2 separate regions of the Homo sapiens genome follow, and region 1 is linked to region 2. The links come from fine-mapping of genetic effects on gene expression. A gene starts in region 2. The other region holds a variant in brackets. All regions are shown on one strand. Distances are between the middles of the regions.

The links.
Region 1: its variant is fine-mapped to the expression of CPO in tibial nerve (GTEx, PIP 0.98).

Annotation. Positions count from the first base shown.
Region 1 is chr2:206,805,296-206,813,632 of GRCh38, forward strand. No RefSeq gene overlaps it. Among named protein-coding and RNA genes, the nearest start is that of MIR3130-1, 26 kb to the left of the region's middle. RefSeq lists enhancers at 1,438-2,265, 6,256-6,871, 6,872-7,489. The variant A/G (reference allele first, on the strand shown) is at 4,526.
Region 2 is chr2:206,934,777-206,943,067 of GRCh38, forward strand. CPO (carboxypeptidase O) reads left to right here and starts at 4,742. Exons shown (of 9, transcript NM_173077.3): 1 at 4,742-4,891. The coding sequence starts at 4,824.

The DNA.
Region 1 (8,337 bases), 130 kb before region 2:
AGCAAGTCATTTTCAAACAAATGCTTTATTGATTTTCTCTTATTTATATACTAGGATATGAAGTTAACAATACATTTTACATGGGTACCTTTCTGTCAAGTTGGAATGAATTTCCGCATGAATAAGAAAGGCCCATTTTCTCTTCATTTTTGTATTTTGAATAGTAGAGAGGCAAGGGAGAGAGAAGGAGGGCCACTGGGCTGAGAATCAGGAGACCTGGGTTCCAGCCACTGCCTCTGTCATTTAAATTCTCTAGGATGCCTGTTATTCCAGCACTTTGAGAGGTGGGCAGATTGCTTGAGCCCAAGGGTTCGAGACCAGCCTGGACAACATCGTGAAACCCTGTCTCTACAAAAAAAATACAAAAATTAGCTGGACTTGGTGGCATACATCTGTAATCCCAGCTACTCAGGTGGCTGAGGTGGGAGGATTGCTCGAGGCTGGGAGGTTGAAGCTGTAGCGAGCCATGATCGCACCACTGCACTCCAGCCTGGGCAAGAGAGGGAGACCCTGTCTCAAAAAAAAAAAAAAGAGAGAAAAGAAAAGAAAAAGGAAAAGAAATTCTCTAGGTCTTGGTTTCCTCAGTGATATAACAGTCAAGTTGGGATAGACCTTCTCTAAGATGTGGTGCTCTCCCTTCTTCGCAAATGCTTAGCATAAGCCCAGATTTCCAATTCCAACATCTGGTCAAAGGCCTTCCCCCTTGCCCCAAACCATGACTTAAGCTTGTAGAAGTGTATGCTGTCATCCTAGGACTAAGAATGTGCAGTGCCTCATAAATCAAATTCAACATTAAATTGCACTGCAAACAAAAAGTTTCACATGGTTACAATGTTGCTGTATGGAATTTAATGAGCTCCATATGCCTGACCTCTGGATATAAATGATTTGGGGAACTGTAGCTGTGAAAGAGTCTAAGGGCATCAGCATCTGGTGGTGTGAGTTACACAGAGTGAAGAGAATCGACCTCATTTTTGTACTATTGCCAAGCTTGGAAAGGTAGAAATACTCTGCAATCGGTATGCTCACCTTCTGAGAGAATGCTGACAGTTTTCCAGAATTTTTCTCACTCATCAGGAAGTTGTGGAGTCCAGTGGATTCTGACTTCCTTCCTGCAGTGCTCCCAGACACTCGTGCCTGTGAGGCCACTGGGCTTTCACTCTGTCCTGGGGAGAGCAGGCTCTCTTGTTGGACATATCGGTGACTTTTGATTGACTACTTGTACTTGTTTTGGTCGTCTCTGCTACCCATAAAAAGGTTCTGCCTAAAACCCAGATCTGACAATGTTATCAATGTTATTCTTCTCCCTTATTTAAACAATTCAGGACTCCTCTTTTTTGTTTGTTTTTAGACAGAGTTTCTTTTGCTCTTGTTGCCCAGGCTGGAGTGCAATGGTGTGATCTCAGCTCACCGCAACCTCCGCCTCCCGGATTCAAGAGATTCTCCTGCCTCAGCCTCCTGAGTAGCTGGGATTACAGGCGTGCACCACCATGCCCGACTAATTTTGTATTTTTAGTAGAGACGGGGTTTCTCCATGTTGGTTTTCACACGCGTCCGTGTGAAGAGACCACCAAACAGGCTTTGTGTGAGCAACATGGCTGTTTATTTCACCTGGGTGCAGGCGGGCTGAGTCAGAAAAGAGTCAGAGAAGGGAGATAAGGGTGGGGCCGTTTTATAGGATTTGGGTAGGTAAAGGAAAATTACAGTCAAAGGGGGTTTGTTCTCTGACAGGCAGGAGTGGGGGGTCGCAAGGTGCTCAGTGGGGGTGATTTTTGAGTCAGGATGAGCCAGGAAAAGGACTTTCACAAGGTAATGTCATCAGTTAAGGCAAGGACCGGCCATTTACACTTCTTTTGTGGTGGAATGTCATCAGTTAAGGCGGGGCAGGGCATATTCACTTCTTTTGTGATTCTTCAGTTACTTCAGGCCATCTGGGCGTATACCTGCAAGTCACAGGGGATGCGATGGCTTGGCTTGGGCTCAGAGGCCTGACATTCCTGCCTTCTTATATTAATAAAAAAAATAAAACAAAATAGTGTTGAAGTTTTGGGGCGGTGAAAATTTTGGGGGGGTGGTATGGAGAGAGAATGGGCGATGTTTCTCAGGGCTGCTTCAAGCGGGATTAGGGGCGGCGTGGGAACCTAGAGTGGGAGAGATTAAGCTGAAGGGAGGTCTTGTGGTAAGGGGTGATATTGTGGGGTTGTTAGAAGAAACATTTGTCGTATAGAATGATTGGTGATGGCCTGGATACGGTTTTGTATGAATTGAAAAACTAAATGGAATAACAGAAGGAGAAAAACAGGTATAAAAGGTCTAAGAATTGGGACGACTCAGGATATCTGATTGGAGAGTGCTTAAGGAGATTCAGCATAGTCCTGCCAGCAAAGATTATTTATTTACTTCAAGAGTTAAGAGTGGCAGTTTGGGGACAGCACCAGGAGATATCAGCTGTGATGGCTTGGAGAAACAGTGTAAACTGGCAGTGTAAACAAGAGCAGGTCATGTATGAGTAGTTGAGAACGGTGAATAGGAGTATGACTAGACAGAAAATAGGAGTATGACAAGTTTTTTTTTGGGGAGGTAGGCACAGTCTAAGTTGGTCTGGTGTCTGGAATGAGACTGGGGCCTAATAAAAAGGAGCGTCTATACAGGAGCTTAAATGGGCTGTACCCTGTAGCATTCCGAGGACAGGCCTGAATTCTGAGAAGGGAAAGTGGTAAAAGTATTGTCCAGTCCTTTTTGGTGGCTGAGCTTGGTGAGGTGTGTTTTTAAAAGACCTTCAGTCCATTCTACTTTTCTTGAAGACGGAGGACCGTAAGGGATATAAAGGTTTCACTGAATACTAAGAGCCTGAAAAACTGCTTGGCTGATTTGACTAATAAAGGCTCATCTGTTATCAGACTGTATTGAGGTGGGAAGGCTAAACTGAGGAATTATGTCTGACAGAAGGGAAGAAATGACTGCAGTGGCCTTCTCAGACCCTGTAGGAAAGGCCTTTACTTATTCAGTGAAAGTGTCTATTTAGACTAAGAGGTATTTTAGTTTCCTGACTCAGGGCATGTTGAGTAAAGCTAATTTGCCAGTCCTGGGTGGGGCAAATCCTCGAGCTTGATGTGTAGGGAAGGGAGGGGGCCAGAATAATCCCTGAGGAGTAGTAGAATAGCAGATGGAACACTGAGAAGTTATTTCCTTGAGGATAGATTTCCACGATGGAAAGGAAATGAGAGGTTCTAAGAGGCGGGCTAGTGGCTTGTACTATAGTATAACCTGCCTTTGCTGGTGTGTGGCGATTAGGTCTGGTGGAACCGCCATCAATAAATCAAGCATGATTAGGGTGAGGAACAGGAAAGAAGAAAATCTGGGGAAATGGGGTGAATGTCAGGTGGATCAGAGAGATACAGTCATGGGGTCAGGTGTGGTATCAGGAATAATGTGGGAGGCCGGATTGAAGTCTGGGGCAGGAACAACGGTAATTGTGGGAGACTCAACGAAGAGTGAGTATAGCTGAAGGAGCCGGGAAGCAGAAAGTATATGCGTCAGGTATGAGGAAGAAAATAGATTTTGGAAGTTATGAGAACTGTAGAGAGTGAGTTGAGCATAGTTTGTGATTTTAAGGGCCTCTAAAAGTATTAAAGCAGTGGCAGCCGCTGCTTGCAGACATGAGGGCTAGGCTAAAACAGTAAGGTCAAGTTGTTTGGACAGAAAGGCTACAGGGTGTGGTCCTGGCTCTTGTGTAAGAATTCTGACCGCGCTAACCATGCCTAGGAAGGAAAGGAGTTGTTGTTTTGTAGAAGGTGCTGGGGTTTGAGAGATTAGTCGGACACGATTGGCAGGGAGAGCACGTGTGTTTTTATGAGAATTATGCCGAGATAGGTAACAGATGAGGAAGAAATTTGGGCTTGATTGAAGTAATGGGGCTGTCTGTGAGCTTTGCGGCAGTACAGCCTAGGTAATTTGCTGAGCTTGATGGGTGTCAGGGTCAGTCCAAGTGAAAGCGAAGAGAGGCTGGGATGCAAAGGAATAGTAAAGAAAGCATGTTTGAGATCCAGAACAGAATAATGGGTTGTAGAGGGAGGTATTGAGGATAGGAGAGTATATGGGTTTGGCACCACGGGGTGGATAGGCAAAACAATTTGGTTGCTAAGGCGCAGATCCTGAACTAACTTGTAAGGCTTGTCTGGTTTTAGGACAGGTAAAATGGGGGAATTGTAAGGAGAGTTTATAGGCTTTAAAAGGCCATGCTGTAGCAGGCGAGTGATAACAGGCTTTAATCTTTTTAAAGCATGCTGCGGGATGGGATATTGTCATTGAGTGGGGTAAGGGTGATTAGGTTTTAATGAGATGGTAAGGGGTGCATGATCGGTCACCAAGGAGGGAGTAGAGGTATCTTATACTTGTGGGTTAAGGTGGGGGGATACAAGAGGAGGACGCAAAGGAGGCTTTGGACTGGGAAGAAGGGTGGCAATGAGATTTAGCTGTAGTCCAGGAATAGTCAGGGAAGCAGATAATTTAGTTAAAGTGTCTC[A/G]GCCTAATAAGGGAACTGGGCAGGTGGGGATAACTAAAAAGGAGCGCTTAAAAGAGTATTGTCTAAGTTGGCACCAGAGTTGGGGAGTTTTAAGAGGTTTAGAAGCCTGGCCATCAATACCCACAACAGTTATGGAGGCAAGGGAAACAGGCCCTTGAAAAGAAGGTAATGTGGAGTGGGTAGCCTCCGTATTGATTAAGAAGGGGACTGGCTTACCTTCCACTGTGAGAGTTACCGGAAGCTCAGCATCCGTGATGGTCTAGGGGGCTTCCAAGGCGATCGGGCAGTGTCAGTCTTCAGCCGCTAAGCCGAGAAGTTCTGGGAAGGAGTCAGTCAGAGAGCCTTGGGCCAGAGTTCCAGGGACTCTGGGAGTGGCTGCCAGGTGAGTTGAACAGTCCGATTTTCAGTGGGGTCCCACACAGTTGGGACGCGGCTTAGGAGGAATCCCGGGCTGCGGGCATTCCTTGGCCCAGTGGCCAGATTTCCAGCACATTTAGCAAGCTCCTGGGGGAGGAGGTTCTGGAGGAACGCCTGGCTGCTGCGGTTCAGGCGTTTGGAAGTCTTGTGTGCTGGAGATGTGTCTGGGGTTTGTCTCACAGTGGAGGCAAGGAATTGCAACTTTTTTCTGTTATTGTACACCTTGAAGGTGAGGTTAATTAAGTCTTGTTGTGGGGTTTGAGGGCCAGATTCCAATTTTTGGAGTTTTATTTAATGTTGGAAGCAGATTGGGTAATAGAATGTATATTGAGAATAAGACGGCCTTTTGACCTTTTAGGGTCTAGGGCTGTAAAGTGTCTCAGGGTTGCTGCCAAACGAGCCATGAACTGGGCTGGGTTTTTATATTTGATGAAAAAGGGCCTAAACGCTTCTGATTTGGGATAAAGAAAAAGGAGCATTAACCTTGACTATGCCTTTAGCTCCAGCCACCTTTTTAAGAGTAAATTGCTGGGCAGGTGGGGGAGGGCTAGTCACAGAACGAAACTGTAAGCCGGACCAGGTGTGAGGAGGGGAGGCGATAAAAAGATTACAGGGTGGAGGAGCGGAGGCTGAGGAAGAATGGGGACCTAGCTTGGGCTAGCGAGGAGGGGAGAGGTCAGATGGGTCTGTAGAAAAGGAAGATTAGAAAGACTCAGCGACGCTTGGGGTTGGGACTGAGGGGACAGGCGGGAGGGAAAGAAGGAAGATTTGGGACAAGTTGCACTGGGCACAGAGACTAGGAAGGGACTGATGTGTAAAAGAATGCCTGGACGTCAGGCACCTCAGACCGTTTGCCTATTTTACGACAAGAATTATTTAGATTGTGCAGGATGGAAAAATTCAAAGTGCCATTTTCTGGCTATTTGGAACTACTGTTGAGTTTGTATTGGGGTCAAGCGGCATTGCAGAAGAAAATAAGGCATTTAGGTTTTAGGTCAGGTGTGAGTTGAAGAGGTTTTAAGTTTTTGAGAACACAGGCCAAGGGAGTAGAAGGAGGAATGGAGGGTGGAAGGTTGCCCATAGTGAAGGAAGCAAGCCTAGAGAAAAGAGAGAGTAGAGAAACGGAGGGAAGGGGTTCAGGAGTTCTTACCTTCCAGAAAAGTGGGAAAAGGGGTTGGGGTGCAGAGATAAGAGGTTGGGGCACAGAAATAAGGGATTGGGGCACAGAGATAAGAGGTTGGGGTGTGGAAATAAGGGATTGGGGTGCAGAGATAAGAGGTTGGGGTATGGAAATAAGGGATTGGGGCACAGAGGTAAGAGGTTGGGGTGTGGAAATAAGGGATTGGGGGTTCTTGCCCTGTAGAAAAGCGGGACTTGCCGCTAAGGGTGAAGGAGAAGGGGTTGAGGGGTACTTGCCCCTCTCCCAGAAAAGCAGAGAAGGGGTAGAGACAAGGAGAGAAGGGGTTGAGGTACTTGCCCCTTCCCCAGAAAAGCGGGACTTGCCGCTAAGGGTAAAGGACCAAGGCAGGCATCCCTACGTGGTCTGACACCCTTGAAACGTGGGTGTATAATCAGGCGTCCCTGCAATGATTAAACACCAATGGAGGGCTGCCTTCCCAGTCCGTGACCGGCGCCGGAGTTTTGGGCCCACGGATAAAACGTGTCTCCTTTGTCTCTCCCAGAAAATGAAAGGAATTGAAATTAAGAAAAGGGAGAGATTGAAGAGTGGAAAGGAGAAAGTGGTTGAGGGACAGTGAGAGAGGTTGGAGAAGAGAGTAAGACGCCGTTTACCTGATTTAAAATTGGTGAGATGTTCCCTGGGCTGGTCGGTCTGAGGACCTGAGATCGTAGGTGGATCTTTCTCATGGAGCAAAGAACAGGAGGACAGGGGATTGATCTCCCAAGGGAGGTACCCCGATCTGAGTCACGGCACCAAATTTCATGCGCGTCCGTGTGAAGAGACCACCAAACAGGCTTTGTGTGAGCAACATGGCTGTTTATTTCACCTGGGTGCAGGCGGGCTGAGTCCGAAAAGAGAGTCAGAGAAGGGAGATAAGGGTGGGGCCGTTTTATAGGATTTGGGTAGGTAAAGGAAAATTACAGTCAAAGGGGGTTTGTTCTCTGGCGGGCAGGAGTGGGGGTCGCAAGGTGCTCAGTGGGGGTGATTTTTGAGTCAGGATGAGCCAGGAAAAGGACTTTCACAAGGTAATGTCATCAGTTAAGGCAATGACCGGCCATTTACACTTCTTTTGTGGTGGAATGTCATCAGTTAAGGCGGGCCAGGGCATATTCACTTCTTTTGTGATTCTTCAGTTACTTCAGGCCATCTGGGCATATACATGCAAGTCACAGGGGATGCGATGGCTTGGCTTGGGCTCAGAGGCCTGACATTGGTCAGGCTGGTCTCGAACTCCTGACCTCAGGTGATCCACCCACCTCAGCCTCCCAAAGTGCTGGGATTACAGGCATGAGACTCCTCATTTTTTATGCACATACTGTCCAGTTGGGCCTGACCCACTTTTTAGACTCCTTGGTCATTATTTTCCGTCTTTGGCATTCTGTGCTCCAGCTACTCAGAGGTCTTCCCCAGCATTCAGATTTCATCTTTCGGAGCCTTTTCACATGCTTTGTACTCTGAGGAATCCCTGCCACCTCTTCACCTGGAAAGATTCTCCTATATGAGTGTAGATTGAACAACACTTTCCTGAGTTCTCTCTCCTCACGTGTTCCTGCCCCATTTGTGGTTAGTCTTTGCCATTTCTGTGTTCCCATGACCCTTAGATGCAGTGAGGGATAGAGAGAAAGGGCTGTATCTTCCCCCAGTAAACTGGGGAACTCTTCAGGAGTAAATATGTGTCTGATTCTTCCCTTTCTTTACTGAAGCAGCATATATTTGGCTGTCAGTAAATGCTGAGTGAACAAATGACGGAGTGTATGAATAAACAAAGTCCTCAGAAGCCAAGCAGAGTTTTCCTCTTTTAATGTTTCTTCACCATATTTCTCTGATTATGTTGCATATCATAATTTATGTCCATCAAAGGTTTAGGCCATACGTACATCCTTTTTGAAGGCTATCGTTCAAGGGCAGGAAAACAACTAATGTTCCTTTGACCTCAGGAAGTTGCTGTGAAACAGGACAGAAAATGTACCCCCTAATCAAAAATAAAAGTTAAAAAAAAAAAAAGAACAAGCCAATAGACTTGCTTGTCTCCACAAAATGCTCCCTGAACTCGTTAAGAATCTGGATGGAACTCATTAAGAATCTTGTCTGAGAGATGTGCTTTGGGTGCAGTCATTTTCTGTGTTAATGTTTTGCAAACAAATAGGTCTCCCAAATGGGAAACTGACCAGAGGCAATAATGTAGATCTTCATATAACAAAATTTAATTTTGACA
Region 2 (8,291 bases):
CCTCCATTTCCTCACCCTCCATCTCTACTCTTAGCACTTGAGAGTGTACATTTCGTCTTTGCTCCTCTTCCCTCCCCAGATGATCCAAATAGAAAATACATCAGCACGTGGGAAAGAGCAACGTTGATCGTCTTCACGGAAAGGCTGAGGACCCTGCGCCTACCACATGTTGGCCAGGGTGAGCAAGCAGTGAAAGAGAAAACACTTTTTTCAAAAAGCCAACTGGTAAGGAATGTTACTAAGCTACCATGTAATTTTCTGTAGCTTTCTGGCTGGGTGTCACAAGCCTGTTAAGGCCTAGCCATGTAGGATTATCCCTGTTACTTCCAAACTTCAGTTTTGTTTCTGAATTTAATTATCCACAAAGTTTCAGAAAGATCCACATAGCTCAAGATCAATTACATTCATTTATTTTCATGTTTTCTGGGATCTGGCTGGTGTGTTGGCTGGATCATCTGAAAAGCAGATACCAAGATGGAGTTGAAAGTAGAAGAGATTTTAGGGGTGTAATTTTTGTGAAAGATAAAGGGGAGAAAAAGCAAGAGAAAGCAAGGAGAGCCTTACACCCAGATCTGACACCTGTGAAAAGATAGAAGGAGGAAAGGAAGATTGGCCAGAAAGGCCTCAGACTGTGGTACAGCCACAAGAAATTTGCTCCTAGAGGCACCTTGCATTGGTTCAATGGTGAGCATTTATGCCAGTTCTGTGCTCAGTCATTGGTTAGAGGATGTCCAGGTAGCACATAGTCCCAGCTTGAATACAGAGTCAGATTCTGAAGCTACCCATAGCGAGAAATTGACAGCGGTTTCTTTCTTGAAGGTAGAGCTGACTTGCACACTTCCACAGCTGGGCAAAGGAAAGAAGATGGTCACAGCAAGCTAAGTCCCTACCTGTGTATATGAGGGCTACATCTAGTCAGTGGATTTATGCCATCTGACTAGAACATAGATACAGATTCATCCATGCATCCGTGCATCTGTGGACCCATGTATCCATCCATCCATCCACCCATCCATCCATCCATCCATCCATCCATCTATCCATCTGCTCATTTCTTGCTTTAGATGATGGCAGCAATCTGCTGAAGCTTCTGTCAGAAGAACCTCTCCTTGGTGCTGCCTCAGAAATCAAATCTAGATTTTGCCTCTTCTGCTAGTAAGGCTGTAAGTTCTGAGTGTCAACCAGCTTATATCTCCACCCAACCTGCCTCCAGCTCTCCTTGTGACCATAAGTCAATGTATTATCCATCTGAGACCAAGCCCTTAACCACACCTTAATTGCTGCCAGTCTGATATACCAATTATTTGAATCCCACTGGTACTTTGCTCCACTAGGTGGGTCATAATTCATGTTATAGTCCCTTTGATTCAGTGTTCCAGGCACAAACAATGCACACCAAGCAAGTGATGAAGTTTATTGCAATGTCCTTGGGTTCAGGGTCAATGAGAGCAACTGACAAGCAGCAGAGGTAGTGACCTGACTTGGCTGTGTGCCTTCCAGTTCTTAAGTCACTGAAGCTGTTCACCTTCAACATGACCCTGGCTTTTGGTAATAATATTTCATAGCAGCCTCTATCCAACTAATGTGGCAACAAGCCATGCAATTTTGAGCCCAGAGAAATCTTGGGCCTTTTGAGAGCACATTATTTTGGAGGATGAAGTCGGTGGAAATGTGTAGGGCTTGGCAGGTAATAAAAAGAGGTTGATTTTTTAAACAAATAATTCTACCAATTAGAATATAATTCTCTTTGAAATCAGCTATCTCTAAGGTCCTTTCATTTCTTTCATCCCATTACTTACTCCATCAAAGAACGCAAGTTTCACCATAATTGAAACCAATTCCCCCCCCTTTTTCCCCTAGAACAATGTTTATGTGTTGGCAGGCTTTCTCTCATGTGGCTTAAAGGACCACATGTGTTTGCAGGCATTCTATCAAGTAGTTTAAAGAGCATAAAACTTGCAGTAATATTTTTGGGAGTAAATTTTATTGTTATGGCTTTAAAACACAATCAAATAAAAATAAGAATATCCATTAGTAGTTGAATATTGTAATAATAGAGTTGAGAACAAATTTTACTGTTATAGGAACTATAAAACAGCAATAATAAAACACTATTATTGTGAATAAATTGTGTGGAGATGACTAACTAGAAAGCTATAAAACACAACGATAAGAAATAATCTAATCACCAGGAAAGATGTGATAATAATTCACCCTTGTTAGTGAGGAGCCCATGGTTCCACTTCATTGGCCCTGAGTTCCCTGGGTTACTGCTTGCATTCCATAAGGTTACAGAAAGATAATCTTTGGCCAGGGGGGTTGGCAGGAGACCACATATTACAGTGAAATTGGACGTGGGGATTGAGGAAAATCCAATTATCAGTGACAGTTAAGAAAATCCTGTGTAGTAATATCAAATGTCCTCACAACACATTTAAAAAATTATTTGCAGGTTTTTACTAACAATTTGTGTGTATTATTTGACTACATTTTTATGTGTTTTTAAACTTTTATTTATATTCTTTTGTTTCAGAATAACTGTATGGAACTACATATTGGTAGCAGGGGAAGCCTTTTGCAGTCTTTCTTTTTATTTAGACTACCCATACGTCCCTTTGCCATGAATCCATCTCAGCCCATTCCAATTAGCAAGAGTATGGAAAGATGACACCCTTAACTTCCAGGTCCCCCTCTCTTTCTGTGGAACTGACAGCACCATTAGAACCCTTGCTCCAAAATTAGTACTACCAAGGTTCCTGCCAGTCCCCTCACTTGGGTGAGGAAGAGAGTGGCATGAGTGTTGCATTTTACCCCTCATTCTGAACAGCAAAATTCAAATTCAGGATTTTTGAATTAACTAAATCCCAAGGGAAGGATGCAAAATGCTAACAATGCAGTTTTCTTTAAGGTGCCATTATCGTAGGCAAGCTATGCTGAGTTTTCTATACTCACCGCCTCCACTTTCTCACTTCCCTTTCCTTCTTTAACCAGCTCCAGGCAGGCGTTTGTCCCCACCACGTTATCTACTGAAATTGCTCTTTTCAAGGTCTCCAGGAGCCTCTATCCTGCTGGTTATGATTGGTTAGTTCTTCGTCCTCGTTTGACCAGTGGGTAACTCCCATTTTTTTTGTTTTTAATGCTTTCCTCATTTGGCTTCTGGGACACAATAGTCACCCATTTTTTAACTACCTCACTGGCTGTTCTTCACAATTCCCTCGCTGGATTCTTCTCTTCTACCAAGTCCTCTAAATGTTAGGTCAGCCCAGGTCTCAGTCTTTGTCTTTCTCTGTCTATACCCACACCCTAGATGAACTCCTCTAGCCCAGTGGCTTTAAACACCATCGTGATATTGTGATACAATAGGAAATACATATTTTGTCTTTGTCCCTGGTTCCTGACACAGAGCTCCTAAAACCCTTGGAATTTCCTCAGTGATAAGATCAATAAAGGTGAAAGGGCCATTTTTGTTATTCATGACGTCCCTTTTGACTATGTCTAAGTTTAAGTGAACAGGTAACTTTTGGAAAGTTTCTAAGGATAGCGGCTGGTTGCCAGGAGAATCAGCCATGTTATTCAGTAATCCCCTCCCATCTCTGGGGAGGAAAGAGGGACTGGAGATTTATTTAATCACCAATGACCAATGATATGATCAATCATACCTATGTAATGAAGTCTTCATAAAAACACAAGGGAACAGAGTTTGGAGAGCCTCTGGGTTGCTAAACACATGGAGGGACTGGGTGGATGGCATGCCTGGAGACAGCATGGAAGCGCTTATCTCCTCTAGTTTTTTAACTGCATTCTCTTTACTTGAAACTGTAACATTTGTTTGTATACTCGTTTATTTTTCTCTCAACTCTACTGTGAGTTCCATAAAAGAAGGGACTCTGCCTTGTTCACCCTTGTATCTTAAGTATCTAGCATAGTGTCTGGTATACAGTGGTACTCATGAGATTTTTGTAGAATGAATACATGAATACAGGGCAGAAGATTTAAACTGGGTCCCTAAATGCCAAGGACTCCATTTAAATACTCTACCTGCTCTGCGCTAAAGTTTGCCTTGCTCAGTTAGACTATTAGCAATGGTCTTAACATGAGTCTTTAATTTTACTGGTCAATGAGATTCAAGCATAACTTGGCTATGTCTGAAAACATGGCGGAGTATCTGACAGAGTCCTTCATGTAAGAGGGGCGTGGGGTAAAATCCACATGGGAAAGGATTGAAACTGTCTTCACTGCTCAGATTTGAAGAGATCTGGGTTTGTTTAAGAAGCTGGTGATGTGGTTCATCAGAAAAAGAGAAGGCATTTGACCCCAATCAAAGCCTTAGATTGAAGGAGGAAGTGGAGATTCTGAATAATGACCATGTCCATTTTGACCAGAGCAGAGTGTTCTTTCTGGTCTCATGAACAGGCTCATGATTCACAAAGACTAGCCTACTATTCCCATTCAACCTGTGTGAGGGGAAGAGCAGGAATGATTGCTCCTGAGCACGAGTGATGGGGGTTCCTAGAAATACTCCAAGGTGACTTTACATAGGGAGGAAATTTATTTCAGGATCTGGTGAAGTTGAGAGCTCACGTAAATTTGGTTTTAGAGAAGAAATGAAATATCAAATGGTACAGCATTTCCCACACTGGAAAAGGTGTTTGAGGACATGAGAGAGTTAATAAAGCAATTGCCCGTGACTTTCTGCTGAGACATCCACTAACTGATTTATCTCATCTTGATTGTGGGAGCCACAGTCTTGATGCATTCATTCTCAAGGACACTTGATCCACTGCCAGAGAGGCCCAGAATTTTCTAACTTACTGTGTGGCAGAATGAAGCCTCTGCTTGAAACCCTTTATCTTTTGGGGATGCTGGTTCCTGGAGGGCTGGGATATGATAGGTGAGTGTAAAGTGGGAAGAGGAACTGATTATTATAATTTAGATTGTCTAAATTGAATGGTTTCTTTTTAAGACCAATGCAGCTGGCTTCTCCTTCCTTGCTACTCATATATACCACCATGAGATGAGAATAATAAAGACCACTGAAATTTATCACTGAATAATCATAATCCTCTAATAATCCTTGAATAAATGAATAAATATCTAGCAAACATTTCCTAACACAATGCATGAGATATACAAATAGACATGTCATGTTTTGTGATTGGAAAAAGAAAATTGTAATACAAATTCTATATCCTTCATTTTCATAGTATCTCATTTGGTAAATCACATTATCCTAATTATTAAGAAAAATGTTAAAATGACCAAATAATTTCACCTAGAGATAAGTACTATTAATGTTTTCAGATAGCTACCTGATTATGTATGCAGCACTATTTCTGAAATATTTCACTTAAATTGTATTACAGAAATTTTCCTATGGCATTAGCAATTTATTTAAAACAGTTGAAATTGCTAATAATATTCTGTCATTTAGTCAATTCCTGCTTTTTCATTTTTACAAATAATGCTGTGATGAGCAACCAGCTACATAATTTTTTTTGCTTTTTGCAAATCTTTAATTATTTCTCTAAGAAGTGGAATTACTGGGTCAGTAACTGAGGAAAATGTAAGGATCTTGCTACACATTGCCCAATTACCCTCTAGAAAGATTACATCAGTCTACACTTCCAATAACAGTGTATGAAAGCACTTTTTAAGTGTTTGGCAAATTGACAAGTAAAAAATACACATTGTTGACTTCCTTTGTATTTTGTTGATTTATAAGAGTAAATATTTTATTACTAATTTTATCATTTTATAAATTGCCCATTAATGTCATTTGCCCATTTTTGTGGTCTCTCCCTACTCTTAATGAATCATAAGTTCTCTAAATACATTCTATTGAAATCTGTGTGTGTGTATGTGTGTGTGTATAGTTTCCATATAAAGTGTGTTTTTCCCTTGTTCATATGCAAATCATTATTTTGCTCATTTAGCATATCTCATGAAGTATATGTGGTTATAATTGGTATTTCCTCTTTTGCTTCATGGTTAAAGAAATCTTGCAATGAACTTGCTCTCACATAACATAGAAACCCACTCCAATTTTTGTCCCACAATAATTGTGTGACCTCAGCTTGTTCCTTATCTTCAGTTCAATTTCAGATACTTACAGAGTCCAGGATCTCTGTGATATCAAAAACCTGTTTGAATATTTCTTTCTCATTTTTCCATTAGTTTACTTGGTTTCATGTACATAGGGCATTTATTTTCCTTTCTGAAATTCCTCATCCATAAATTGGAAATGAAGACTCTTACATATTTTACAGGAAATACAAAAAAAATTATGCTGCTTAAAAATATCAAGAGCCTTAAAACATAAATCTTTTGGCCTAGTGTTCCTGCCTCTGGACATCTATACTGAGGAAATAAACTAAAGTCTGAAAGAGTTTTATGCAGCTCTGGGATACAACTTTATTTATAATATATATATTCTAATATTTGGAAACAACTTGAATGTCTATGTTAGGTTATGTAAATGCTGATATGTGATATAGGACAATGGGATATTATTCATGCAATAGAAAAATAAGTATAAAACTTTTTAATGGCATAGGAAAATGTATGTTTTATGCTAAAGGAAAGAGGCTGTATATAAATCTAATGGAGTACTTTAAAAAATAAAATAAAAATATGTACTAAAATGGTAATTGTTATCTTTGGTTGGTGATATTTTCTCCCTTCCCTCAACTATTATTCATTTTGCAAATATCGTACAATGAACATGACATAAAACTTTAATTTAAAAAATTAGATTCCAAGCCCAGGTTAAATTATTGAAGTGACTAGGCTCAGGCAGTGGGACTCAGATGAGACAGCTTCCATTGGATGGTTCCTCATGACTGCACTTGACCGTGCTTGTCTTTATTGGCTGTTTTTATTTAAATTATTAGTTATTGATATAAAAAATAATGGTCACTTTTATGTAACTCTCGCCAACTCAAAACATGTTAGCTGCAATTTTTGATAATCTTTATTCACTACATGTGATAATAGTCTAGAAAATTTAAAATTAATAAAGATTACAAGCTTTGTAATATTTCTCTTGAGCATTTAGGGAGGTAATCTCCCATATGTTATATATTGCATACATCCTGAAAAAGTGTAACTCTGTATAATCATTTGGGATTTAGCAATATCAATCAAATGGCTTGAAAATGTTCATCTTCTTTGATCTACTAATTCTTCTTTCTGGAACGTAGCTCAAGGAAACAATAAAAAATAAGAACAAAGATTTACACAATAAGGTATTATCTCTAGAATTATTTATAATAGTATAAAAACCAAAAGGGACATAGCTTTAATATCCAGCATAGAAGAAAATATTTAAATAAATGATACTATGTAACATATACTTACTGTCAAATAGTGTGCAACCATTAAAGAGTTTTCATTGGTTTGAGGAAATGTCTTTGGTAGAATACAGAATACAAAGAAACGAATACAAAATTATATATAGATATAATCTGCCCTGCATTTAAGAAAAATAAATGCACAGATAAAAGTCTGGAAGGAAACATGCCAAAATATCAGTAGCAGTTAACTCAGGGAGGTGGAATTATTGATAATTCTTCTCTTTTCTATTTTTCTCCTCCTTTTTTACCTCTCCATACCTTCTACGTTTTCCATGTTAGGCATATGTTAATTTTGTAAGCAGAAAAATAAAGTTTGAAAATACAGAACTATCATGAAATATTCATGTAACTATTTCTTCACCAAGTATTTAAAATACAAAATTTGCCTCAATATTCATTAGGATTTTTTTGCCTCTTTATACATTCCAGTCAAAATGCTATCAGACCATCATCTTTGATCTGCAGACTTTATTAATAATGTACCCCAAAGGATCATTTTCTCTATTAAACATTTTATGAATTCCTGTTCAAAAAGAATACACAAAGTACAATAATCTTTTCATTTGATCAGTGAGATGAGACTGGTGATAATTTGGGAGATTAGCCAGCTTTTTCCTCCCCTCTCTACATGTTTTATGCATCACCCAAGAAATTGCCTAGAAACAGAGAATAGCCTTTTCTAAGTATATGGTTTAAGCATTCATTTGAACAAAGTATTCGAGTTTCTGAGGTTTACATATTGTGTTTCAGTTTCATATACAAGTGATAAGCATTTTTAATATCGGGGCTTTCACTTAAATCCCAGACCATTCACTTTTTTTGCATATGAAATGGACCCAGTTGCTCAATGCTGGGCTTAGGAAGTAACAGACTCACATTTTGTAGACATTGTAGCCAAGAGTAAGGCAAATGCCTGAGGGTGTTAGGTTATCTTTATTT